Homo sapiens: one gene and its partners. The protein of the gene in region 4 purifies or fractionates together with the protein of the main gene of each other region. This does not show direct contact. Each region holds a gene or a part of one and is shown on either strand. Other genes may lie near its edges. The genes, in order: AP2M1, AAK1, BMP2K and REPS1.

Evidence for each region.
Region 1: the proteins of REPS1 (region 4) and AP2M1 purify together in Homo sapiens (affinity purification with mass spectrometry; 5 studies listed by BioGRID and IntAct, with this or other methods). This does not show direct contact.
Region 2: the proteins of REPS1 (region 4) and AAK1 purify together in Homo sapiens (affinity purification with mass spectrometry; 4 studies listed by BioGRID and IntAct, with this or other methods). This does not show direct contact.
Region 3: the proteins of REPS1 (region 4) and BMP2K purify together in Homo sapiens (affinity purification with mass spectrometry; 4 studies listed by BioGRID and IntAct, with this or other methods). This does not show direct contact.

Annotation. Positions count from the first base shown.
Region 1 is NC_000003.12:184,177,846-184,184,618, forward strand, and holds the end of AP2M1 (AP-2 complex subunit mu), read left to right. Parts: intron 1-372; coding exon of another isoform or gene 373-378; intron 379-1,011; coding exon 1,012-1,277; intron 1,278-2,323; coding exon 2,324-2,406; intron 2,407-2,799; coding exon 2,800-2,805; intron 2,806-3,003; coding exon 3,004-3,139; intron 3,140-3,239; coding exon 3,240-3,381; intron 3,382-3,850; coding exon 3,851-3,970; intron 3,971-4,066; coding exon 4,067-4,202; intron 4,203-4,305; coding exon 4,306-4,403; intron 4,404-4,911; coding exon 4,912-5,023; intron 5,024-5,636; coding exon 5,637-5,771; 3' UTR 5,772-6,246; downstream 6,247-6,773.
Region 2 is NC_000002.12:69,633,727-69,640,762, forward strand, and holds part of AAK1 (AP2-associated protein kinase 1), read right to left. Parts: intron 1-7,036.
Region 3 is NC_000004.12:78,912,350-78,916,901, reverse strand, and holds the end of BMP2K (BMP-2-inducible protein kinase), read right to left. Parts: 3' UTR 537-4,552; downstream 1-536. UniProt on the Homo sapiens protein: May be involved in osteoblast differentiation.
Region 4 is NC_000006.12:138,908,246-138,915,281, forward strand, and holds part of REPS1 (ralBP1-associated Eps domain-containing protein 1), read right to left. Parts: intron 6,517-7,036; coding exon 6,452-6,516; intron 4,706-6,451; coding exon 4,520-4,705; intron 3,127-4,519; coding exon 3,031-3,126; intron 572-3,030; coding exon 423-571; intron 1-422. UniProt on the Homo sapiens protein: May coordinate the cellular actions of activated EGF receptors and Ral-GTPases.

The DNA of each region.
Region 1 (6,773 bases), on a different chromosome or scaffold from region 4:
TGAGATAAAGTCACAGAATGGGCCTGTGGCAGTGCTCTTCATTTGGCTCCCTGGCTGATGGGCTGGCTTGGCCCTTGCGGGCGTTTGTCCATTGGCTGGTGGTGTGGCATGAGCTAGAGCTGCAGCTGTGGCAAGGCCTGGCCTGTCTGAACCTGGCTGGCTACACCCCCCACCCCAGACCCCCTCCTGCCTTGGATGGACTGGGCAAGCCAAGGCCAGGTCACACGCCGCCTTGCCTGTCTTGTCTGCTTCTGCCTCACGGTGTGTGCCGCCCTCCCGGTGTGTTGTGTGTCTAACCCTCTCTCTCGTTGCTATCACTCTCCTCTTCTTGCTGGCGTCATTTCTCTCATCCCATCTCATTGGCTGCCGTAGCAATAGGTAAGCGGCCTCTCAAGCTGCTGCCCAGGTACAGGTGGGTGGGGGCCTGCCCCCATCGTTTTCCTGCATCCTTTTTCATTCCCTCAACTTGCTCTGGAGTTGGATCCTGGGCAAGAATGGGTAGCACAATTCCATGGCCCCTTGGTACTTCTCCCTCCTTTGTGACTTCTGAAGCCATGCTGGCTTTGTCTAACATCTGGAGGAGTCGGCCCTCCCCACTGGTGGGATCACTAGCGGGAGGACTGAAGAAGCAGTGTCTCTTTCTGTCCTGGACCTGGGAGCTTACAGGGAAGCTAGATAAAGCTGGGAAATTAGGGCCAGCCCTGGGAGTAAGGAATATCTGTCTCTAAACCTGATGAACCTCACTTTATTAAGGTTACATCAGCCTTAATAGTTGACTTCCCTATTTCTTGTGGCCTTTAGACACTAGCCCAGCTCAGGCACTCTTCCCATGCCTCCACAGGGAGTCATAAGAAGGGAACCACTCCAGTGGTTTAGGCATTGGCTTTCTTTGGAGTGTGTGTGTCAGACTTCTGCAGAAAGGAGGGTGGGGCTGTTAGCAGCTGTGGTTGATCCTTATGGGGTAAGGTTCACCTGGGTGCTGAGCAGGCCCTATGCACTCTTTTCCCTCAGGAGGAACGCAGTGGATGCCTTTCGGGTCAATGTTATCCATGCCCGGCAGCAGGTGCGCAGCCCCGTCACCAACATTGCTCGCACCAGCTTCTTCCACGTTAAGCGGTCCAACATTTGGCTGGCAGCAGTCACCAAGCAGAATGTCAACGCTGCCATGGTCTTCGAATTCCTCTATAAGATGTGTGACGTGATGGCTGCCTACTTTGGCAAGATCAGCGAGGAAAACATCAAGAACAATTTTGTGCTCATATATGAGCTGCTGGATGGTGAGGCTGGCGGGCTGGCACGGCAGCGGGCGTAGGGTGGGAAAAAACCAGGCTGGGCCTGGCCTGAAGGTGGGTGTAGGTCCGAGGCTCTGGTACACTCTGAACTTTCTTTCCTGAGTATTTGGTCTCTTGGGCTAGGATCTCTATGCCCCTCAGAAGGCCAGTTCACATCCAGACCTGAAGGCTGGTCTGAAGTAGAACACAGAAATAGGCCAGCAGGTGATCTTCCAAGGGGCTAGGAACCTGACTCAGGTTTGGTGGCTGAACCTCCTGTATTCATCCTCTTTCCTTTGTGGCTTGGACCTTAGTTCACTAACTGTCCACCCAGTTTTCCATCTCAGCAGCTGCTTCAGAGCCTGGGGGAGAGTGAGATATTACAAGCCTCTTGGGGTGCACTGTTATCTCTGTTCCTCTGTAGAGTGTGATCTAAGAGAAGGTGAATACTTCCACCTTCCCAATGTCTATTTTCTGGAGAAAACAGCTCAAAGCTTCTTGACTTGCCACCCACTGGCCATGTGACTCTTCTATTGATTTCTTTTCTTTTTTTTTTTTTTTTGAGACAGGGTCTTGCTCTTGTCACCTATGCTGAGTGCAGTGGTGCAATTGCAGCTTACTGAAGCCTCGACCTCCTAGGCTCAAGCAATCCTCCAGCCTTAGCCTCCTGAGTAGCTGGGACCATAGGCACATGCCACCATGCTTGGCTCATTTTTACTACTTTTTGTAGAGCTGGGTCTCGCTATGTTGCCCAGGCTGGTCTTGAACTCCTGGGCTCAAGTGATTCTCCCACCTTGGCCTCCCGAAGTGTTGGGATTACAGGCATGAGCCACTGCACCTGGCCTTGATTTCTCTATTTGAAAAAAATCAAACATTTGAATTGTTTTCCTGTAAAGCACAAATCACAGAATAAATGCTACAAAGCTAGAAGACTTTCTTGCGGATGATCCCACATGGGCTTTGGGAGCTGTGCCGGTCAGATGTGTAGGCCCAAGTAGGGGCTGGAATGAAGAAGCTCTGTCCAGGGGCTGATGGTTCCCTTCTTTTTGCAGAGATTCTAGACTTTGGCTACCCACAGAATTCCGAGACAGGCGCGCTGAAAACCTTCATCACGCAGCAGGGCATCAAGAGTCAGGTACTTGAATTGTGCAGACTATAGTCAGGGTGGAGTCCAATCTCCCTTCATCTCAGCTGGCCCCTGAGCCTTGTCTGAGCTGACTCATGAGCCCTCCCATGACAGGAAGTGCTGGCCTGAGCCTCCTGCCATGATTGCAGGCCGATTTTGCTCTGTGTGGTCCTCCCACTGCAGGAGCAGCCAATTCAGCATCTCTATTACCAGGAATACAGCTCAAGCAGTTTCCTTTTGCACTGAGGGGTGGGGGAGGAGGCCTGGTCTTGAGGCCTGGTATTCCTCAGGAGGAGCGAGCTTGGGCCCTCTCCTCTAGGATCCAAGCCTCATAGCTTTCTCCTCCTTTTCTGCCTCCCTTGCTGCTTCATGTGGGCACCTCGTTGGCCCTGCGGCCTCCAGCATCAGGTAAGCTCTTCCCTCAGCTTCCACCCTTGCAGCTTTGCTTTGTTTCTCCAGGCCCTGCCCTTTGGGGCTTATAGGGGAAAATGGATTACAGGTGGGGACTAGAAGGGATGGGGAATGAGGGTGGAGTGGGGATAGAGACAGGATGATTAAAGGGACAGAGGAGTGAGGCCATTGCTGTTTGTTTCTGCCCTCATGTAGACAAAAGAAGAGCAGTCACAGATCACCAGCCAGGTAACTGGGCAGATTGGCTGGCGGCGAGAGGGTATCAAGTATCGTCGGAATGAGCTCTTCCTGGATGTGCTGGAGAGTGTGAACCTGCTCATGTCCCCACAAGGTGAGGTCCCTCTCACGACAAAGTTGGAGGGGGCCCAGGGCAGGATCCTGGGCCTGCCTGCCTGACTCCGCTGCTCCCCATTTATCTGTTCCATCACCAGGGCAGGTGCTGAGTGCCCATGTGTCGGGCCGGGTGGTGATGAAGAGCTACCTGAGTGGCATGCCTGAATGCAAGTTTGGGATGAATGACAAGATTGTTATTGAAAAGCAGGGCAAAGGCACAGCTGATGAAACAAGCAAGAGGTGCCTGAGGCAGGAGAGCTGGTGGGAGAGGGTGTCCCTTGGAGGGCTCAGTGGGGTCTAGTGAACCACAAGTTTCTTCTGGATTTCATTCCCACTGTAATTGCAAACTCTGTTCCTGACGGTAAGCCTGGCTGTTCGCTCTTGACATTAGTGCTACGAGAGATGAGGGGATCGTCCTCAGAGAGCAAGCCCCTTTGTTTGGTCCCTAGGACCAAGGCCTTTTCTGTACATACTGACAGCCTCTGCCCAGTGTGCCTGAAACACCCAGGTCCCTAGCAGAAGGAGCCCCAAGAGATGAGCTTGCAAGGCTTCCCTCTCATCCCAAGCTCTGGGGCAGACCTCCGAGTCACAAAGCTGCATTCTAGCAGCTTTTCATAGTCTCTGGTGCCAGCCTGGGGTGGAGTGGTCTCCCAGCATGACAGCTGTCATTCTCCTGTACCAATGAGACCTCTTCTGCCCCTGCTTGCAGCGGGAAGCAATCAATTGCCATTGATGACTGCACCTTCCACCAGTGTGTGCGACTCAGCAAGTTTGACTCTGAACGCAGCATCAGCTTTATCCCGCCAGATGGAGAGTTTGAGCTTATGAGGTGCCATTGGGGTGTGAGGAGGCAGCTAGTGCTGCTGGCAGACTGGGGAGAGGAAGTGGGTCAGCTCTTTGGTAACCTTGCTTCCCATCCCTTAAGGTATCGCACAACCAAGGACATCATCCTTCCCTTCCGGGTGATCCCGCTAGTGCGAGAAGTGGGACGCACCAAACTGGAGGTCAAGGTGGTCATCAAGTCCAACTTTAAACCCTCACTGCTGGCTCAGAAGATCGAGGTGAGGACAGGGGGCTCAAGGAGGAGGAAGAACTTGTCCCTAGGAATAAAGGTAGCTGATGTCACAGCTTGACAGAGCTCCCTGACAGGTGTGTCACTTCTAGGTGAGGATCCCAACCCCACTGAACACAAGCGGGGTGCAGGTGATCTGCATGAAGGGGAAGGCCAAGTACAAGGCCAGCGAGAATGCCATCGTGTGGAAGTGAGTCTTTCCTTCATTAGGCCACAGCAGGGCTCAAGATCCCAGTATACCCTCTTGTTTTCAGCTTTGATCCTTCTGAATGAGGGGCAGGGGAGTGTGCCTGTTTGCTTTTCTAGGAGCCTCTGCTTGTACTGTCAGTCTTTATACCTCCATGTGAGTATGTACACGCCTGCATTTGGGTTCATGCACGTGCTTATTTTTTAAGATGCTTTGGCATTTCCCTTTGTAATGTATACATTACAAAGGGAATACATTGCCTTTGTAATGTATCTGTGAAGCAGACAAAGCAAACGATAGCATGTCCAAGTGTCTAGGCAGAAACTGCATCCTGTTGTTCTAAAGAAGTAGACCCAAGTTTCCATAGCAAGTGGTTAGCAGGGTCCTGACCACTTCTCCTTGTTCTGGCACCTCCTGCAAGCTCCTGGGCTCTCTCCTTGCTTGAAATGGGCAACTGCCCTTGAAACTCCTCCAAGCCCCAATGGGCTGCCCATTGTCCCTGTGTTCCCAGGATCAAGCGCATGGCAGGCATGAAGGAATCGCAGATCAGCGCAGAGATTGAGCTTCTGCCTACCAACGACAAGAAGAAATGGGCTCGACCCCCCATTTCCATGAACTTTGAGGTATGGCAGAGGAGGGGCCTAGAGTCATGCCAGGGTATGCTGGAAGACCTCTTAGAGATCATTCCGATAAACTGCTGCACCTTAGAGGTGAGGAAACTGAGGCCTAGAAAGAAGAACTGGCTTTAATTCATAGATCCATTCTTCCCCTTTCAAGCCTCTTAGTAGAAATTACTATTTGTGATGAGGCAAATCTTTTACTTCTCTCGGCTTGTCCTAACACAGTTCTTTCAAAAAACTTAGATTGTTTAAATGCCAGGTAAGACACAAAGTTTACTTACAGACAGGATAATGGGCTGACTTTGCTTTGCGCATGTTAGACATAATTTTCTCCACCTTATTTTTAAGTTCATAATATTGAGCAGGATAAGTATGTTCTAAAGCAGTTCTTTGGTTGCTGTCTCCTGCTGATTAAAGGAACTGATTCAAGGTGTCACAGGTAGGGCTTTCTTCTTTAGTCACCTCTTAGAAGGTCCCACGCCGCCCCAGCTTCTTTCAGGACCCCAGCCATACAAACACCTGTAGTAGCGATGAAGTAGGGCAGGGCAACGGGACTTCCCAGAGGAGAGCGGCTGTAAGAGGAAGGCCACATTTCTAACTAGCTCTCCTTGCCCAGGTGCCATTCGCGCCCTCTGGCCTCAAGGTGCGCTACTTGAAGGTGTTTGAACCGAAGCTGAACTACAGCGACCATGATGTCATCAAATGGGTGCGCTACATTGGCCGCAGTGGCATTTATGAAACTCGCTGCTAGCTGCCACTAGGCAGCTAGCCCACCTCCCCAGCCACCCTCCTCCACAGGTCCAGGTGCCGCTCCCTCCCCCACCACACATCAGTGTCTCCTCCCTCCTGCTTTGCTGCCTTCCCTTTGCACCAGCCCGAGTCTAGGTCTGGGCCAAGCACATTACAAGTGGGACCGGTGGAGCAGCCCCTGGGCTCCCTGGGCAGGGGAGTTCTGAGGCTCCTGCTCTCCCATCCACCTGTCTGTCCTGGCCTAATGCCAGGCTCTGAGTTCTGTGACCAAAGCCAGGTGGGTTCCCTTTCCTTCCCACCCCTGTGGCCACAGCTCTGGAGTGGGAGGGTTGGTTGCCCCTCACCTCAGAGCTCCCCCAAAGGCCAGTAATGGATCCCCGGCCTCAGTCCCTACTCTGCTTTGGGATAGTGTGAGCTTCATTTTGTACACGTGTGACTTCGTCCAGTTACAAACCCAATAAACTCTGTAGAGTGGAGTTGCTGGCTTAGTGTTGATGTGGGAGCTACATGGGGAGGGAACTGGTGTTGCTCTCCGTGCAGTTTTCTGTACTGAATACTCTAAAGGCTCTTTCCTTGTCTTGTCCCAGTTAGGCCCCTCCTGGGCCATCCAAGCCCTTATCCTTGTGGGTTCTGGGCCCAGGTTTCCTGGCTCCTCTTAGAAAGCCTCAAGGGCATGCAGCCGCAGCGGGCCCCAGTACCCTGGGGATAGATTCTTTCCCTAGCTCCTTTTTATTCCCCCTGGTCCTCGGACTCCTAGGCTCAAGAGATCTTACCTGCCCCAGCCTCTGGAGTAGCTGGGATCACAAGCACGCACCACCACAGCACCCAGCTCTTTCTCTAATTCTTAGGCAGATGTTTTCTAATTAGATTAAGCATAAATTAAGTGTGAAGTTTACATTTGGTCTTGTAGCCATCCTAAGAAATTGACCTTTTAATTCCATCATTTACCCAAGCTTCCCAAATCTTGCTGACTGGGTGGTAGGAGGAAAGATTTGCAAGGAGA
Region 2 (7,036 bases), on a different chromosome or scaffold from region 4:
TTATAGGCTACCTAGTTTCTGATATTTTGTTACAGCAGCCCAGAGGAACTAAGCCAGTAAGCAACCTTCAAATGCTATGGAAGCATTATCTGACTTGAAAAGCTCACAGGGAGATTCAGCTGGGAAGGGTTGGTTATTAAAGGTCAACAATGTTATGAGAGGGCCGGGCACAGTGGCTCACGCCTGTAATCCCACCACTTTGGGAGGCTGAGGCAGGTGGATCACTTGAGGTCAGGAGTTCAAGACCAGCCTGGCTAACATGGTGAAACCCTACCTCTACTAAAAATACAAAAATTAGCTGGGTGTGGTGGCACATGCCTATAGTTCCAGCTACTCGAGAGGCTGAGGCAGGAGAATTGCTTAAATCTGAGAGGCAGAGGTTGCAGTGAGCCAAGATTGTGCCACTGCACTCTAGCCTGGGCGACAGCAAGACTCTGTCTGAAAAATATATATATAAAAAGAATGTTATGAGAAAAGATACTGATGATCCTTTGTACAAGGAAGAATTTTAAGGAAGAATCCTATACTTGTAGCTAGGAGCCTCGGGTTCAAGTTCATTCACTGCTACTTCTTGCCAATATGACTTTGAAGAAGTCATTCAACCAATGTCAGCCACTGCTTCCTCATCTGTACAGCTGGAGTAATAACCATGCTTTCTACCTCTGCAGGGATGACGCAATCACAAAATGAGAGTATGTAGATATAAGGCTATTTCGCATAAGAGCAGCTTGTCCTGCCAGTGAAAGAGGCAGCAAGGTTTTACTAAGCATCTCATATGTTCTCTGTCTGAGATGCTATGGCAAACAGAGAAGTAATGGAAGACTCGGCTCCTGTCCTGCTAGTTGGCATGATATGACCAACACACAAGAAACAACTGAACCCCAAAAGGCAATTACATATCTCTTGCAGTGATGGGGTCTGTGGTGTAGTCTCTAAGCTATGGGTTTGAAGGAAGGAGATCAGAGAGGACTGCAATGGTTATGAAAGATTTCATGAAGACAGACTATTCTTAACTGAGTCTTTTCTCTGTAACCTCACCTTCATGGAACCTTGCTGCATCTAGTTCACCATCTTTACCTATGTTCTAGTTTTCTCTTAGTAAAGTTAAAGTAAGTATTGCAATATTTTTGGTCTTTTTTTGAGGAACAAAAAATGGTACAGAACCACTGCTCTAGACTACAATGGTCTCAAAACAGTAGTGTACAAGATGACAATGCACTGGGGTAGACAAAGAAAATAAAAGATCCTCTATTTTTATTTATTTTCATTTTAAAAAGTAAGATTTTCCAAGTAAAAAGGCAACCCACAGAATGTGAGAAAATATCTGCAAATCATGTATCTGATAAGGAATTGATACCCAGAATATACAGAGAACTCCTAAAATAACAACCCAATTCAAAAATGGGCAAAGGACTTAAATAGACATTTTCCAAAGAAGATATACAAATAGCTAATAAACACATAACAAGATGCGTGACATCACAAATTACTAGGGAAATACAAATCAAAAGTATAAGAAGATACCACCTCACATCCATTAGGATAGCCACTGTCACAAAACAGAAAACAAGTGTCGGTGAGAATGAGGAATAACTGGAACCTTTGTGCACTGTTGATGGGAATGAAACATGGGTACAGCCGCTATGGAAAACAATGTGGCAATTCCTTAAAAAATTAAAAATAGGATTACCATATGACCTAGCAATTGCATTTCTGAGTATATACCCAAAAGAACGCAGGGTCTTGAAGAGATATTTGTACATCCATGTTCATAACTGTAGCAACATTATTCACAATAGCTAAAAGGTGGAAGCAACCCAGTGTCCACTGATGAATGATACATGTGGCATATATATACAATGGCATATTCCTGAACCTTAAACAGGAAGGAAATTCTGACACATGGTACAAAACAAATGAACCTTGAGGACATTATGCTAAGTGAAATAAGCCAATGACAAAAGGCCAAATACAGTAATATTCCACTTATATGAGGTATTCAACGTAGTAAAAATCATAGAGACAGTAAGTGGAGCGCTGGTTGCCAGAGGCTAGAGAGAGGTGGGAATGAGAGTTGTCATTTAATAGGTACAATTTCAGTTTTACAAGATGAAAAGAGTTATGGGAATGGATGGTGGTGATGGTTGCATATTATGAATATATTTAACACCTAGACGTACATTTAAAAATGATTAAGATAATACATTTTAGGTTATGTGTATTTTACATTTAAAAATTTAGAAAAAATAAGATTTTGTCCTTGTTAATATATAACATATGGCCCAACACTAGCACTCCCATTCAGTCAATGTTCAGTCACATGTCCACTATTGAGGGCTGATGGGGTGACATCTTTATAGCACACTGAGATATACTATAGTTCATGTGTGCTTGGTTAAATGGATTCACTGATTACATTATTTTAAATTAATTAATCATCACAAAACAAACTAGAGGCTTAAAAAGATTTCTACTAAAAAAAAACCTTGGATTAAAGATAATGCAATCAAAAATGAACAAGAGAATGGCAGAGCTGTCATATCTATTCCTGGCATACTCTTCATACATAGTCACACTGCAATGTAGACACAATCACAATTGAATAAGTTAACCAAAATCTTGTTGAGATTATTTAAAATATAGATTTGCATCCACTATCATTTATGATGAACTTCATCCTAAGTATATAATGTGACTTCAGATATTAGCTAATGATAGCAGGACATGAATATAACTTACAAATAAACAAGCACACATACATGAAGATATGGCATGTTTTTTAACTAGAGCACTATTCTATCCAAAAAGTTTAGAGACTACTGCTCTAGACCAACACTGCCAGAACTTGTGATGATGAAATACATCTCACCTGTGCTGTCCAAAACTGTAAGCACTAGCCACATGTGACTATTAAGCAATCAAAATGTGGCTAGTGCATCTGATGAACTGCTATTTTAGATAATTTATTTTTTCTTTTTCTTTTTTTTTTTTGAGACGGAGACTCACTCTGTCACCCAGGCTGGAGTACAGTGGCAGGATCTTGGCTCACTGCAACCTCTGCCTCCCGGATTCAAGCGATTCTGCTGCCTTAGCCTCCCAAGTAGCTGGAATTACAGGTAGCCGCCACCACGCCCGGCTAATTTTTGTGTGTTTACTAGAGACGAGGTTTCACCATGTTGGCCAGGCTGGTCTCAAACTCCTGACCTCAGGTGATCCATCTGCCTCAGCCTCCCAAAGTGTTGGGATTACAGGCATGAGCCACTGCACCCGGCCTATTTTAGATAATTTAAATAGCCATATGTGGCTAGTGGGCTACTTTATTGAACAGCACAGCCCTGGGCCACTAGTAGATTATCGCTATCTCAAAACATACAGCTCCCCAGTAAGCAGTTATTTTTCTGCTTTTGTGTCTTTGGCCATGTTATTCTCTCTGCCTAGAATGTTCTTCTACCTTGTCCATCTAGCAATAAGTTCTCATTTTTGAAGACACACCTCAAATGTCACCTTTCTTTAGCTTTCCCTGACTACTCCCCAACCCACAAAATTGTTGCCTTGGGTCTGTTCCCCAGCTCTTTTACATGACTCCAGCGCAGCATCTGCAGCTATTTGCTCACATATCTGAAATCCTATGACTGTGAGGTCCTCAAGGCACAGCCATGTCTCATTTATCTCCGCATGATGCCTGGCACATAATGAATGCTCAGTAACATTTACTGAATAAGGGAGTGAATGAACTGACAAACCTTGATCTCCCAATTCATAATGCAGTGTTCTTTCCACCACACCAAAATATGGCTCCATAAAATAGACCGGAGGCAAGTCTCTGCTAGCTCACAGTGCTAGATGCTACTTTAATAGACAATACGTTTCTATTATTATCATTTTTTTCTCTTTCAGATGCGGATGTCACAGTTACCTCATAAGTAGGCTCAGAAGGCATGCATCCTTGAAAGGGTGCAAGATGAAGGTGGTACTAGTCCCCTTTCCGAAGCGTCAACATTCAAATATTGCAAGTTAAAATGACGGCTCTGATGCAGTAATATTTTTTGTGTGTTTTGTTAATATTTATCAAACCTTTCTTGTGTACTCTACATGGCGTTTTAGCTACCAGGGTACAAGTGTATGTCTCCCCTCATACCCTCCCACTCAAAAGTCACGTGAAACTGCTGCTCTCTCTTCATCATTATTTGTTATTAAATGAGCTTTACTTTGTTAGAAAGACTGAAAGAAAGAGTTTGACCATGGCAATTGCTTATTCTGGACTTCATTTCTGAATTCTAGATTTGGCTATATTTAGCAAAGCTACAACCGTCATCATGCCCAAAGCCAGGAAGAAGACACCATTCACAAACCACCCCCTGAAAATCTGCAGTTGCCTCTAAAAAACCAGACTTCCCAGCAGGCAAAGACATCTGAAGTGGGAGGGATCAAATTGGTGTTTGCGTCAAGAGAAGGTCTCAGGTGCTTATAACTAAATCTCTCTGCCTGGCACTCAAGATTCTCCATAAAATTAGTCCTTCCTTTTCTCTCCAATGTACCTTCTGCTCTGGTCAAACACCTTCAATATCTCCCCTGTTCATACCTTTCGGTAACACTGGTCATTTCCCTTCCCTGCCTGCTTTTGCTTAAGCTTCTAGCCTCTTATCAAACCTTCTGGGACCACTCTTTCCCCAGACACTCGCTGCTCCCTTTCCCCACAATTGGCACGGGGCTGAGGCACAGGAGGGGAGCCGTGCATTCTTGGTACCTATTCATCAGTCTTTCAAAAGGCCCAGGGCCACTGAAGAAAGTGAGTAGCAAGCACCTCCAGGGAGCAACTTAAAGAATTTCATTCTACCACTCCGTGTCCTCTGTCCTTCTTTCCTTGATTCTGGGGAGGAAATGTGTACTGATGAAAATGGTAACACTAAACTAGTCAGTATTCTCAAAATTTATCATGCTGTTTCACCACTTTGCCTATACTATTCTCTCAGCCTGAGAGGTCCTGAGTAACCCCCATCTGGAACATCTGCTGGGCAATTTCTATTCCTGTTCAAACTTCATGTCACCTATGAACTCTCACCCCCAGGCTCTTTATCATAACATCTTTTACCATCTAAGGTATGTATGTCAAAGGCCACGCTTAAGTGCTGGACACTTATCTCAGGTGTTGAGCTCTGTTAAGAGTCAGGCCTGTGTCCCATTCATCTTAGGATCTCTGGAACCTAATACAGTGCCTGCCACAAAGAGGCACGTACGTGTATCATATTGATACCACCAACATATTATGTGCCTTTAATGGAATTTTTGGTGATTTCACACACATTTTTAAGCCTTACTAGTTTGCTCTGTAGGTAGGAGAAATTATCAAAGTTTACTGATGTGGACATTTGGTACTTCTCATCAGCCTTGGACCTGGATTCCTTGAATATAAATTAGAAAGCTGTTCTGAGGAGCCATCTAGTCCACCTTATAGTTCCAGAATGTTGTCTTCAACACAGTAATAAATAAACATTTATTGTTTAAAGCTTAGATATAAGTCCTCGTATAGCTAAGGAAGTATGATAAAAGCACAGCTTCTCAATCCTTCTTTGAACATTGCTCCAATTTTCCCATTGAGCTCATTCTGGAAGCTTAAACCAAATCTTCCCTTGATATCATATGCCCATTAACTTAGACATGATTTAGCTTCTCATCATGGCATCTTTGCTGAGAAAGCTAGAAAGAAAATATTCTCCCTGGCACCCAGCCTAGAAATAGCCATATTCCTCTAAACTCATAACTTAAAGCCTTCACTTCCCCCAAACAGCCCCTGCTGGACTAGTTAGTGAAACCAGGCCAGGAAGGCTGATGCTACCAGGGGAGGTATGGCAGTGCGACATCTTTTTGTCTTACCCAGCACCTGCTCCTTGGGGTTCTTGCAATTCCTTATGAAAAAGCACAGACCAATACCCACGCTAGAGAAAAAGAGATCATCAGCGGAATGTGGTGGTAATCTGGTCTGTGTTTTGAAGCCTCTCACACCACTCCTCCCTAAACTGCCTAGCCACCGCTCTGGGCACACAGGGTACAACTCCTGTGGTCCTTAAACAACTCTGGCTAGAACTGTAGATAAGTCAGCACTCGGGGACTCACAGAGAAGAGAGTCCAGGGAAGGAGCATGGCTACCCAAAACGTCTGTTAAGCCTTTAAGGAGCTGGTGAGGACTCTGCAAAGAACATCTGGCTCTGTCCCCTAACAATGGGGGAAAGGAATTGCTTCAGATTGCTGCAGCTCAACTAGCTTTCACATTGCTCCCACTCCCCTTTAACACACACACACACACACACACACACACACACACACACACTCTCTCTCTCTCTCTCTCTCTCTCTCCCCCCCCACATATATACATATGATGTATAACGTTGCTGGTAAGTAATGGCTACCATTTATTGAACACCTGAAAATGTTAATTATATATATTGCCTCATTTAATCTTCATGACCAGCCCATTAAGCAGTGGTTCTCAAACTTGACCTTGCGTCAGAATCTCTCCAGGAACTTATTAAGCCCCACACCCACAGCCTACAGAGTGAGGCCTGAGAATCTCCATTTCCAACAAGCTCGCAGGTGATAAGTATGCCCCACTTTGAGAACCACTGCCACAGGGAAACAGAGATTCAAGAGTGGTTTGGAATGTCTTGCCTACAGTTCCACAGCTAGTAAAGAACAGATCCAGAATTTGAACCTAGATCTGTCTGACTCTACAGACAGTGCTGGTAACCATGCTACTGTATGTGTGAATGTATGCCTCATCTTCCCAAATTCATTGGCAGATCCTTAAAGGCAGATGTCAATCACACTATAGACCTCCCTCATCCATCTCAGAACTTCATAGGGTCTTTGGACTTGGTAGGTGCTACATAAATACTTTGTATACTGGCTCCTACATATCTACATACTTCTAAGAGCCACAAATTCAAACTCAACTTAAGCCAAAGAACACAAAAAGGGCGCATAGCCAGACCCAGTTTTACGTGACATTCTCTCTCGCTACTCTGTCTTTGCCCATGGT
Region 3 (4,552 bases), on a different chromosome or scaffold from region 4:
CTCCAGTTTTTGGAATAATACATATTATAACCTTGATGCCAAGCTTAGTCCATCAATCCAATAAATAGGTTTTCTCTTTAATGTGTCATAGCCTCTTTTCTGATATAATTGAGGATTACAATGTTATTTAAGCAAATAACCAGTATTAATTCAGCCAAAGATGTTATCAGTTTTAAAGATTTTTAAAAATTTATAATGTGGAAGCTGTAAAATAAGTTATTCAGAAGGCACTACACAATATTGTTTTTGCCTTACTGTCATCACTCGAGTATCAGTAATTATGACTCACTGAAAAAGTCGTGCTATTAAGTGTTCTTGTGGCAAAAACTCTTAAGTCAAATGGGTTTTCTTACCTAAATTGTAAACTCTGAGCTCCTTAAGAATAGGGATCTAATCTTAGCAACTTTTCTATTCCACTAGCTGCTACATAATAGGTGCTTAATGTTTGTGGTGTGAATGAAATAACTGAATTTGAATAGAAGTTTACATCCAAAAGTCATAATAAGACAAATAATGAAAAACTCCAAAGTCACTGATTATAAAGAATATGCAATCCATTTGGGATTTATTGCATTTAAAGAAAACAGATTAAAACAGGTATGATAAATACAGTAAGAAAATAACTTTAAATTTCAAACAAAACAGTGAATCAGGGACAGAATTCAGTCAAAAAGAATAAGCAGTGTAAAGGCAATAAAGTAATAAAATCAGTTAGTGCTTAATTAGATATGGCAGGGGAAAAGGGGTGGGAGGGGGAGACTGAGTCTATCTCATAATTGTTTCCCAGCTATATTTGAGGACTGAAGTTACTTTAGCAAGTATGTTTTGTAACAAGTAGAAATACAATAAAGATGTAAATTTGCTTTATTTAAAGGTTAAAGTTATTTGCTTAGTGGTACATAAAAGGCTTCAGAAAATTCAAGTTTAACAAAAAATGGAAGTGTAATCAAAGAAAGTGCACTTAAAGCTGTTTGCCAGCAATTAAAAAGTAGCTTCTATACAGCTTCTATTAGATGACTTTTCAATCACAAAAAGAGCATAGTCATAAAAACAATTCTTTCAAAAGTAGCAGTATAAATTTTAAAATAAAACAAAAATAACCCCAAATCATGACCCTTTGCATTATCATCTACCTTATTCTCTTAGTAGCTTTTGTAAACCCTCACTAGGAGTGAATGTTCTCTTAGATATGATTGTGGTTGCAATTCCATTTTTTAAAAATTCACATTAACTCCACAGTAGAGAGATGTGACATGCATGTGTGTACATATTTTTATCTTAATATATAAAACACCACTGAGTATAAAAGTTCTCAAATAAACTATTCATCATTTATGGTATTCTCACAGTAGATATGTCATCTCATTCTCACAGTAGACTGTCAACTCAATAATTGGACCTAAAATAACAAGTTTGCTAAAAAGAAAAAAAAATGAGAAAAAAGTTTACTGCACATTCTAAATATATTAAAAACAAATGTACCCAAGCGCCTCAAAACTAGTGATATTAATACACTTGTACCTTCTAACAGTGCTTACGTGAAGTACCAAAACCTAAAATAAACCAAGCAGAGTAGCTGACTTGTAAGAAAACTGCTCTGCCTGGTGAACTTCAGCATAGAAGAGTGGGCTCCACCTTAGATTTTCCACCAGCAAGAGGACAACAGTCTATCACTCTTAAACAATAAACAGGGTAAGACTGAAAGTTGTGTCTATTTGCAAATCCGGATAATGTCGTAACTATACCCAACACGTACACAGGGATTGGGGTAAGGGAAAATAATTACACTCCTGAATAAATGTTCTAGTCAGTTAAATTTTCATCCGGCCTACAACCTTTCCTCCTCCACCTATTATACTTACCATGCAATTTTTGTGTCTTAGCAGATACATTCTTCAATGCCATAAAAAGCTGATCTTTTTAATACTAACATTTTACTGACGTGATATTAAAATAAGCAAATGGTCCACTTTTTAAAGGATTATTCAAAATCAACAAGCATTATTAAAGCTGTTAAGAAACAACTTTGGCCTCAAGATTTTTGCTAGCTTCATAATAATTTACTTCTCTTAGTGATGTTCAAGTATAACAGGTTTAGTTATAACTACATCCTAAAGAAGCACAGGGGACACCCAAATAATATTAGGGAAAAAAAACCCCAAATATATATATATATATATATTTGCTTAGTGGTACATATATAATAACCTTTCTTCCTTCCTTAAACCAGAATTGAACCATCCCATAATAGAGCCAAACTTTTATTGAGTGCTGTGTGCCAGGTACTGTGTTAAGCACTTTCACATATCTTGGGAGCTTTATTCTCATAATTCTCACAAGGGAATAACCTGAGCATCAGCTGTGTGGAGTGACCTACACCTTGACCATGATTCTGGGGGATGATGAATGAAAATGCAAAGTATAAATCTATACTCCTTAGGAAAATGCCTCTACTACAACACAAAGGAATCTCTCCATTTCTATCCTATTGAACCCCCAATTGAATCCTGTATCTTTTCTCTGAGCTACAATCTTGAAAGAAGAAAGTCACTGTGCTGTGTTATAAGAATGTAAATATTTTATGCTGTCAGTTGTTTCCTCAGAATTTATAAGTCAAAGGGTCTACATCAGTGTCAGAATCATTTAAAATTATTCAGTGTATTGAAAAGCAAGTAAAACTCTAGGTATTTCATGTTTACATCTGAAGGAGACATTAGTTCATCCTCTACCCCTTTTCTAAATGATGAAACTCATGAGGTCTAGCAGAGACCAAGGACTAATACAATCAAGAAGCATATTGTGTACACCTCAACAGATTTTCATTAAAAAAAATTGTTTGATACAAACCTACTGTAGTTCATGAATTTACTATGTGTAATCATCAACTCTTCACTTTTAAAAGAAAGTATCACTTGAATCTATTTTGTAAAGTTTTTAAACATCTACTTGAGCATTTGCATTAGCAGTATTAATCAACCTGAGAATCAGAAAAAAAAAAAAAGGTGCAAACATATTTGCCTTTGGCACGAGGACAAGTAATTGGTGCAGTCCAGCTCTAAATAATAATGTAATGCTTGGTCTGCCTCTGCTACATTGTGATTCACATATTGCTTCCCTATCCACAAATCTATATTTGATTTAGCATATAAAAGAAGGGAAAAAGCAATAAAAAGACAAATATGTGGTTTAGTTACATATACTTTGCTTCTTTCCAAGTTCAGAACTGTGAAAATAGGCAAATAGCTTATCCCATTGGGGCACTATAAGAGATTCCTAATAAAATTACTCGTAAAATATACTTTGAGATCGAAGAGAGTTAATTTAAAATATAAAAATCAAAGAGAGTGCCAGTTGATGAGTTTCTACTCCTTTCTGTAAATAGCATTAACTGTTCTAGAAACTTCCAAATGTTAATCTGATAGCGCAGCACAATTATATCTTAAAATAGTCATAGACACAGGAAGCACAGATACTATATTCACATTAATTCACATATGTAATCTCTATCATTAAATGATTTCTATAAAACCTCAAGTTTCTAATTAGGATTTGTGGTGTAAAAAAAGGCAAATTGGTAGCTGGGTTCTTTTCAGTAAAGACACAATCAACTAGCAGAATTAAGATGCTAGTCCACCTTATATGCATTTTAGGATCTGGTATATTAGTGCAGAGGTACTTGCAGCAGGATGCATGAATCCTGCCTTTATATAAGGCTTTGTGGGTGTCACCATTCTGTGCACTTTATTAAAACTACTCCACCCCCCAAAACCTAATAAAAATAATTGTTGCTTATGACTTGGGGAATATTTGGTGAAGTTGCTAATAAAGTACATTGTTAAATGCAACATGATTTCACATTGTAAATGTCTTGAAAATTCAGTTTCCGCTACATATTTTCTTCATAAAATAAAATTTTTATACAACCCTTGTCCTCCAATTTTTCCAATAATCTGCTTTATTAGGGCCATCACAATAAAAGTTTGGGGCAAGAAGCCATGCATAAAGTGTTTCTAAAGTAGTGAATGTTTTCTGTTCTGTATCTTTTTTTCTTCTTATAATTTCTTTACAAATGTCAGATATTTCTCTTCATATTTTTGTTCTAGGCTTCTGTGCGACGATAGTCCATTTTTTTAATTTGTTTTAACTGACAAAAATTATATATATTTATCATGTATAACATTGTTTTGGAATATGTAAGTTGTGGAATAGTTAAATTGAGCTAATTACACATTATTTCATATGCTTATCATTAGATATTCCATTTTAATGGCACTTGTTTTTAAAAATGAAACAGAGTTTTAGGCACAATAGTCAGTTACTTCTGGCTCTGCTTTGTGGAGAAAGGTGTATGGACTGAAATCTCTGCACTCTCCAGATAATAACTTTCTAATGCTTTAAGATAACTAGATTGTTTTTAACTGTCTGGAAATTAAAAGAGACCTTAAAAAAAATTCACAAGTGTAACTAGTGTATGTAGAAATAACCCTAATTTTAGGGATATGCACATAAAAATGACATTCTGATATCAAAAATAACAGTTTCACTGTCCCTT
Region 4 (7,036 bases):
GCTCAATTAAAGAACTAGTCTGACCATAATTTACTTCAGTCTGATTATTGTTATTATTATTATTTGTGAGATGAAGTCTTGCTCTGTTGCCCAGGCTGGAGTGCAGTGGTGCCACCTCGGCTCACTGCAACCTCCGCCTCCTGGGTTCAAGCAATTCTCCTACCTCAGCTTCCCGAGTAGCTGGGACTACAGGTGTGTACCACCACACCCGGCTAATTTTTTTGTATTTTTAGCAGAGATGGGGTTTCACCATGTTGGTCAGGCTGGTCTAACTCCTGACCACAAATGATCTGCCCAGCTCAGCCTCCCAAAATGCTGGGATTACAGGTGTGAGCCACCACGCCTGGGCCAGTTTGATTACTTTTAATTGTCGTGCTTTTTCTTCCTAGTAATTAAATGTGTCTAGGAATAGCTTTGATTACCTGGGAATAGAAGGTTGTGATGCAAGAACAGCAGCTAAGACACCCGTCTTTTGTGTATGTTCATCAACTTCTGGCCTTAATTCATCTTCTGATTTTAATCTTCTTCGAACAGGTTTAGGTGGTGGAGCAAGTGGTGTTGTGCCTTTGCTCTTTAAGACAAGAATTCCATTAATAATAAGCATTTTTGAAGACATTCATAGTTAGCACTTTGCAACACCATTTGCTTTCTTTAAGCCATTTGCTCTTGGAAAATTGAAAGTTACTTGTCCTACTTTAAATCTATATATTTGTGGCAAGAGCTAACTTAAATTACAGTGAGAAAAGATGTTTCTAGTTGACACCACAATCATGAATGTACCTGCAATATAAGTATTTTTAGAGCAACATACTGATGCAAGACTGTAATATTCACAGTTTTAACATAAATATGATACAGAATCAATATATACCTGTTCAACAATAAACAAAGGCAGTCTCCAGAAATATCTATGCATTATCACCATAGGATTTCTTACTCAAAAATACTAACATTCATCTTAGTGAATAAAATAACATTATAAAGTAATGGAAAGCTAGGCAACTCTTTAAAAAACCAAAAACATCATTATTAATATGCACAGTAATTATAACTTCTGAAAATGAGTTGACAGTTTGTCGGTGATTATGAATCTGCCCTTGGCAGAATAAAAAACAGCATTTTGGCATTTACCATAACTTGATTTACCTGTAAATAAATAAAAACAATAGTCAACTGCTATCTCTTTAGTTAAGTGATATTTTTAATTTGTTACTGTGAGTTGACAAAAATAAAGTTCATTACTTAAAAACTCACAGGACTACTAATGTAATAAAACATAGTGATATGGTTTGGCTCGGTGTCCCCAGATCTCACTTCAAATTGTAATCCCCATGTGTCAAGCGAGGGGCCTGGTGGGAGGTGACTGGGTCATGGGGGTGGTCCCCCATGCTGTTCTTATGAGAGTGAGGGAGTTCTCACAAGACCTAATGGTTTTACAGTGAGGCACTTCCTCACTCTTTTTCTATCCTGCCACCTGCTTCCCCTTTGCCTTCCGCCATAAATGTAAATTTCCTGAGGCCTCCCCAGCCATGCAGAGCTGTGAGTCAATTAAATCTCTTTTGTTTATAAATTACCGTCTCAGGTGGTATCTTTATAGCAGTGTGAAAACAGACTAATACACACACAGTGTCCAGAAAGTAGAATTTAAGCACTTCAGAAACACATGCTGTTTTTATAACTATTGGGAATGTCTAGATAACAGAAAAAAAAAGTTACCAAAATTATTCCCTCAAAGGGAAAGTGTGCTGATACTTGCAATCTAAAGTACACTGATATAGTTTAGATATTTGTCCCCTCCAAATCTCATGGTGAAATGTGACCTCTAATGTTGGAGGTGGGCCTAGTGGGAGGTGTTTGGGTCATGGAGATAGATCCCTTGTGAATGGCTTGGTGCCCTTCTCACAGTAATGAATGAGTTCTTACTCTTGAGTTCACATGAGAGCTGGCTGTTTAAAGAGCCTGGCATCTCTCCTTGCTCCCTCACTCACCATGTGACACACCGGCTCCCACTTTGCCTTCTGCCATGATTCTAAGTTTCCTGAGGCTTCACAAGAAGCAGATGCTGGTACCATGCTTTCTGTACAGCATGCAGAACCATGAGGCAAAATAAACCTCTTTTCTTTTTTTGAGACAGGGTCTCACTCTGTCACCCAGGGTGGAGTGTAGGGCACTATCTCAGCTCACAGCAACCTCCACCTCCCAGGCTCAAGCGATCCCCCCACTTCAGCCTGCCAAGTAGCTGGGACTATAGGCGCATACCACCACACACGGCTAATATTTGTACTTTTTGTAGAGACGGGGTTTCGCCACATTGCCCAGGCTGGTCTCAAACTCCTGAGTTCAAGTGATCCGCCTGCCTTGGACTCTCAAAGTGCTGGGATTACTGGTGTGAGCCACTGTGTCCGGCATAACCTCTTTTCTTTACAGATTACCCAGTCTCACATATTCCTTTATAGCAATGCAGACGGACTAACACAGACATAAAACATATAAGGATTGACAGATGAACAGATGGCATGGAGAGATATGTAGTAAAGCAAGTATCCTAAAATAATAATGGTATAAAGTAGTGAATTTACTGATGTACAATGAAAAATTGTTTCAATTTTTCTGTATGCTTAAACGTTTTCATAATAAAATGTTGGGGGAAAAAATTATACCTAAAACAGTTAAAGAACAAGTTAAGAGAACAGGGAATAATAACAACCTTAGAGGGCTGATAATTTTTCTTTATTATATTGAAGACTACAATAAAAGAAACTGAATTTCACCTATAAAGAAGTTCTACCTTATATAGTGGGAAGAATGCAATAACCACTTAAATTTTGAGAACCTGTGACACATACTTAACATAGATTACAGAATATCATCTCCATTAAATAGGCAGACTTTGTTCTGAGCTAGACTGACTATACTACAGTTAAAGGCAGAGAAATGGGTTAGATGATTTCTGGCTGACCTTATTTCTAAAAATTATTTCACATTACTTATGATGTACAAAATTATTATTATAAAAGACATTTTGCATACCACATTGGCAGGAGCACTAGCAGCTGTCTTTTCTTCAGTTTTACTATCTGTTTTGGCAACTCGAAGAGAACTTGCAGGATCAGAAGCTTTTTCAGCCTAAAAATGAATATGTTTATCACTATTAATTCTACATAACATGTAATTATGCATAAATATAGAATATGTACCAAATCAGAATAAAATGTTAAATATTCTGACAAGAAAACTGAGATGATGATAAGAAACTTGAAGGAACTTTATTAAATGAGCCTTCTCTGCTACTGAAAGGCAGATGGGAGAGCAGGTAATAGATGTGTGAGGGAGAGGAGGACAGGGCAAGGATGCAGCTATGTAACAGATGTGTGAGGGAGAGGAGGACAGAGCGAGGATGCAGGTAACAGATGTGTGAGGGAGAGGAGGATGGGGCGAGGATGCAGGTAATAGATGTGTGAGGGAGAGGAGGACGGGGCAAGGATGCAGGTAGTAGATGTGTGAGGGAGAGGAGGATGGGGTGAGGATGCAGGTAGTAGATGTGTGAGGGAGAGGAGGAGGGGACGAGGATGCAGCTATGTAATAGATGTGTGAGGGAGAGGAGGACAGGCGAGGATGCAGGTCATAAATGTGTGAGGGAGAGGAGGACGGGGTGAGGATGCAGCCACTGCACCGAACCTCTAAGTGGTTAGTCTGGGAAGTCTTCGTGGTTGGGAGAAGGGAGGCATCCACCCAGGGGAGTGAGTACGGTACCCTGTGCACACCTCTACATGCCCACTCTGACCCTCCTAGATGCAGCCCAGTCCCCTAATGGGCACGGCAGAAAGTTGTAGGTTTTAAAAGGGAGCTAGTAGGAAATTTTCCATGGCTATGACCTATAAGAAAGAGATTGCAGAATTCCTCTGGTCTCTCCAACTCCACATTTATGCTCAGCAATTTAGGTCAGAGATTCCTAGAGAGGTTCTTGCCATTGGAACTACAATAGAATATCCTAGAACACTGTGAATATTAAATTTTGGTATCCTATAGTCTTTGCTTAACTAAGGCAACTTACTCTCATACAAATTTTAAATGCTTTAATTAGAAGTTTGGCTGAAATTTGTTTTTAGTTAAAGTTGTAATTAGATCTAAAAGTTACATATAGTGAAATTCCCCTTGGGGAAAAGTTGCAATGAGTGGAGCTATGGTAACCATGGCCTCTTATGACAGGGAAATCTTCACCAAATCACACAGACAGATGCTTAGCATTAAGATGGAAACCCCCAAAGCAGCGTTTTAGCCACGGCCAGGCGGTGGTGTCTTTGCATGTGATATCAATCCCCCACCCCCACCAGACTCTGATACTTAGTAAGCATTACACTGCAACCAGCAGATATTGGAGGCCAATAAAAAAGATGAGAAGCACTGACCCAGGGAATATTTTACTCACTGATGTCCCCTCTAATATCTGCTCTGTTGACACAACATGGTATGGGAAGTGACTGCCTGCAGAAAATTAGCCAAGCCCTCGAAAACTGACCGGCAGGACTTCTGGATGTTTCTCGGCTTCATCATCTTGTTCGTCGTTTACATTTGATGCAGCAAATACTTCAAACTGACTGAAATCTGCAAAATTTGGTTGCTCTGGTATCTGCTGAGGTGAGGTACTAGTGTGAGTTATGAGGCCATCGGCATCCACTGGGCGATGCACAGCAGGACCAGGAGCCTGTGCAATGGTTCAGAACAGAGGAACACACATTCTATCAGCCTATCAGTGTCACAGAGTCATCTTCTTCTTCTTCGAAAACTTAGTATATAAAGATGACCTGTTTTATTATCTGTAAGTTCAGAGAGGTGTATTATAGTAACATTTAGCTCTAAAGAAATGATTAAACCATAAGTGAAAAGCTAAGACACTAAAAAAAAAATTAAGATGATAAACCTCCAATAAAAAGATATTTTTTTTCAAAAACTGTATTGCAAAGAAAGTACAATGAAGGAGAGGGTAGGTCTGGCCCTACCCCCATTCTCCACTTGCATGTGTTTTTTTCTTAATTGGACTAATGCACAATAGTTTCTTCCTTAAATAAGTTATTTTTTTTTAATGTTTCACTGTTTCTTAAAAAGCTTGCTCTAAAAAGTGTGAAAACCACTGCTCTATCCTCCCAACATGTCAGGAACACTTCCCTTCAATTCATCTTCCACTCCTTTGCCAGCCAGACCAATGCTGCTCCATCTTCAGTCTAAAAATATGTTTACTGAATATGTACTTGTGAACAAAACAAATGAGGCCCACTTATACTCTAATAAAGCTGACAGTCCGGAGCAGGAGAAGAGAATAAGTAAATAAGAAATTAAAATAGAGTGTGAGATGTTTTATGACAAAGGAAGTAAAGGATACTAAAGAAAGAAATCTGAAGTCTCTTCCCTTTAAAAATTCTTCATCTCCTCTAAGAAAAAGTCTATCCTTCTTACTACGATATGGACAGCTTCATTTCTCATCACTCCACACATCTACTCCTGTTGTGCTGAACTAACTTGTTTTCCCCTGAGGAATGTGCCAGGCTTAACACAAACCTCCATCGCTTTGTGGATGTCATACCTTCGGTTTGGAATACCTTTTCCCCAATAAATTCCACTTTATCTTTCAAGTCCCTGCTAAGTCTCATTCCTTCATTTCATGTATAATGTGATCCTTAACTTTAGCCACTAAGGCTGTCCCAAAGCATTTTATAAATGTCTACTACAGCACTCTAATTTTGATGTGGAAGGGATGCAGAGGTCATTATACTTCCTTAACTCATGTGGTAAACACATCCAGAGAGATGCAGTGAGGTTATTTAGGGGTATTTTGTTTTGTTTTGAGACAGGGTCTCACTCTGTCATCCAGGCTGGAGTGCAGTGGTGCAATTACAGCTCACTGCAGCCTTGATCTCCCAGGCTCAAGAGATCCTCCCACCTCAGCCTCCCAAGTAGCTGGGACTACAGGTGCACACCACCACACCCAGCTAATTTTTTTGTTTTGTTTTTAGAGATGGGGGTCTCACTATGTTGTCCAGGCTGGTCTGGAACTCCTGGGCTTGAGAAATCCTACTGCCTTAGCCTCCCAAAGTGCTGCAATTACAGGTGTGAACCACTGCACCCAGCCTGGTGAAGTGATTTTGTGAGTCACTGCTAGACCCAGGACATTAATGGATATTTCCTATCTCCCAATCCATTGTTGTTTCCACTAAACTCTTCTCTGTCAAGACATTATCATTTGTTTCACTTTTAAGGCTCTTTCAAAAAATAACTCAGATCATTCTTGAAATGTGCATCTTTCAAAATGAGATTCAGCCTCACTGAATTAAATGCTCATTAAAGATTACCAACAGATCATTCCTGACCTTCCAAATAATTTGAGAATAGAATTAAATACCTAGCAGGCAAAGTGATCATGGGACATTTAGTAATAAATACCTTGGAGAATTACCTGTGAGGGCTGTGGTCTTGGAGGCACTGCAGGAGGATGGGCAACAACTCCAGCCTGTTGTTGTCCTGCATGAATACAAAAGTTCTTCTTTTTAGTAACTGTATAATCACTTTGTTAATAGAAGAAATAGGCTGAATGAATGTGACTACATGATAAAGATTTCTAAGAATGTTTGTTAAGTATTAGAAGGCAAGTACTAACTTGTTACATGGTCTGTATGTAACCTAAAGACCAAATCTCACAGCCTTTCATCAGATCTCACTTTGCTTCTTACCTCTATTACATGAAGCCCTCCTGGCATACTCCTGCCTATTCCCATAATAGCAAACAATCTTGATTTTCTTCGTGTATCTCTGACTGCTGTTTAGGTATCAAATGAAAACTTCCAAATTTTCCCTTTCACTTAACACTTCACTTTTCCTCACCATTCTAAACTCACAGTGACTAAAACATAACTTCATCATCCTCTGCCCTAACTTTTCTATTTTAACCAAGGTAACAACAATACTGCCAGTTCTTCAAAAATTAAAAACCTGGGTAAGTTATGACTCTTCTTCTTCATCAGCCAAATTGAGACCTATCAGT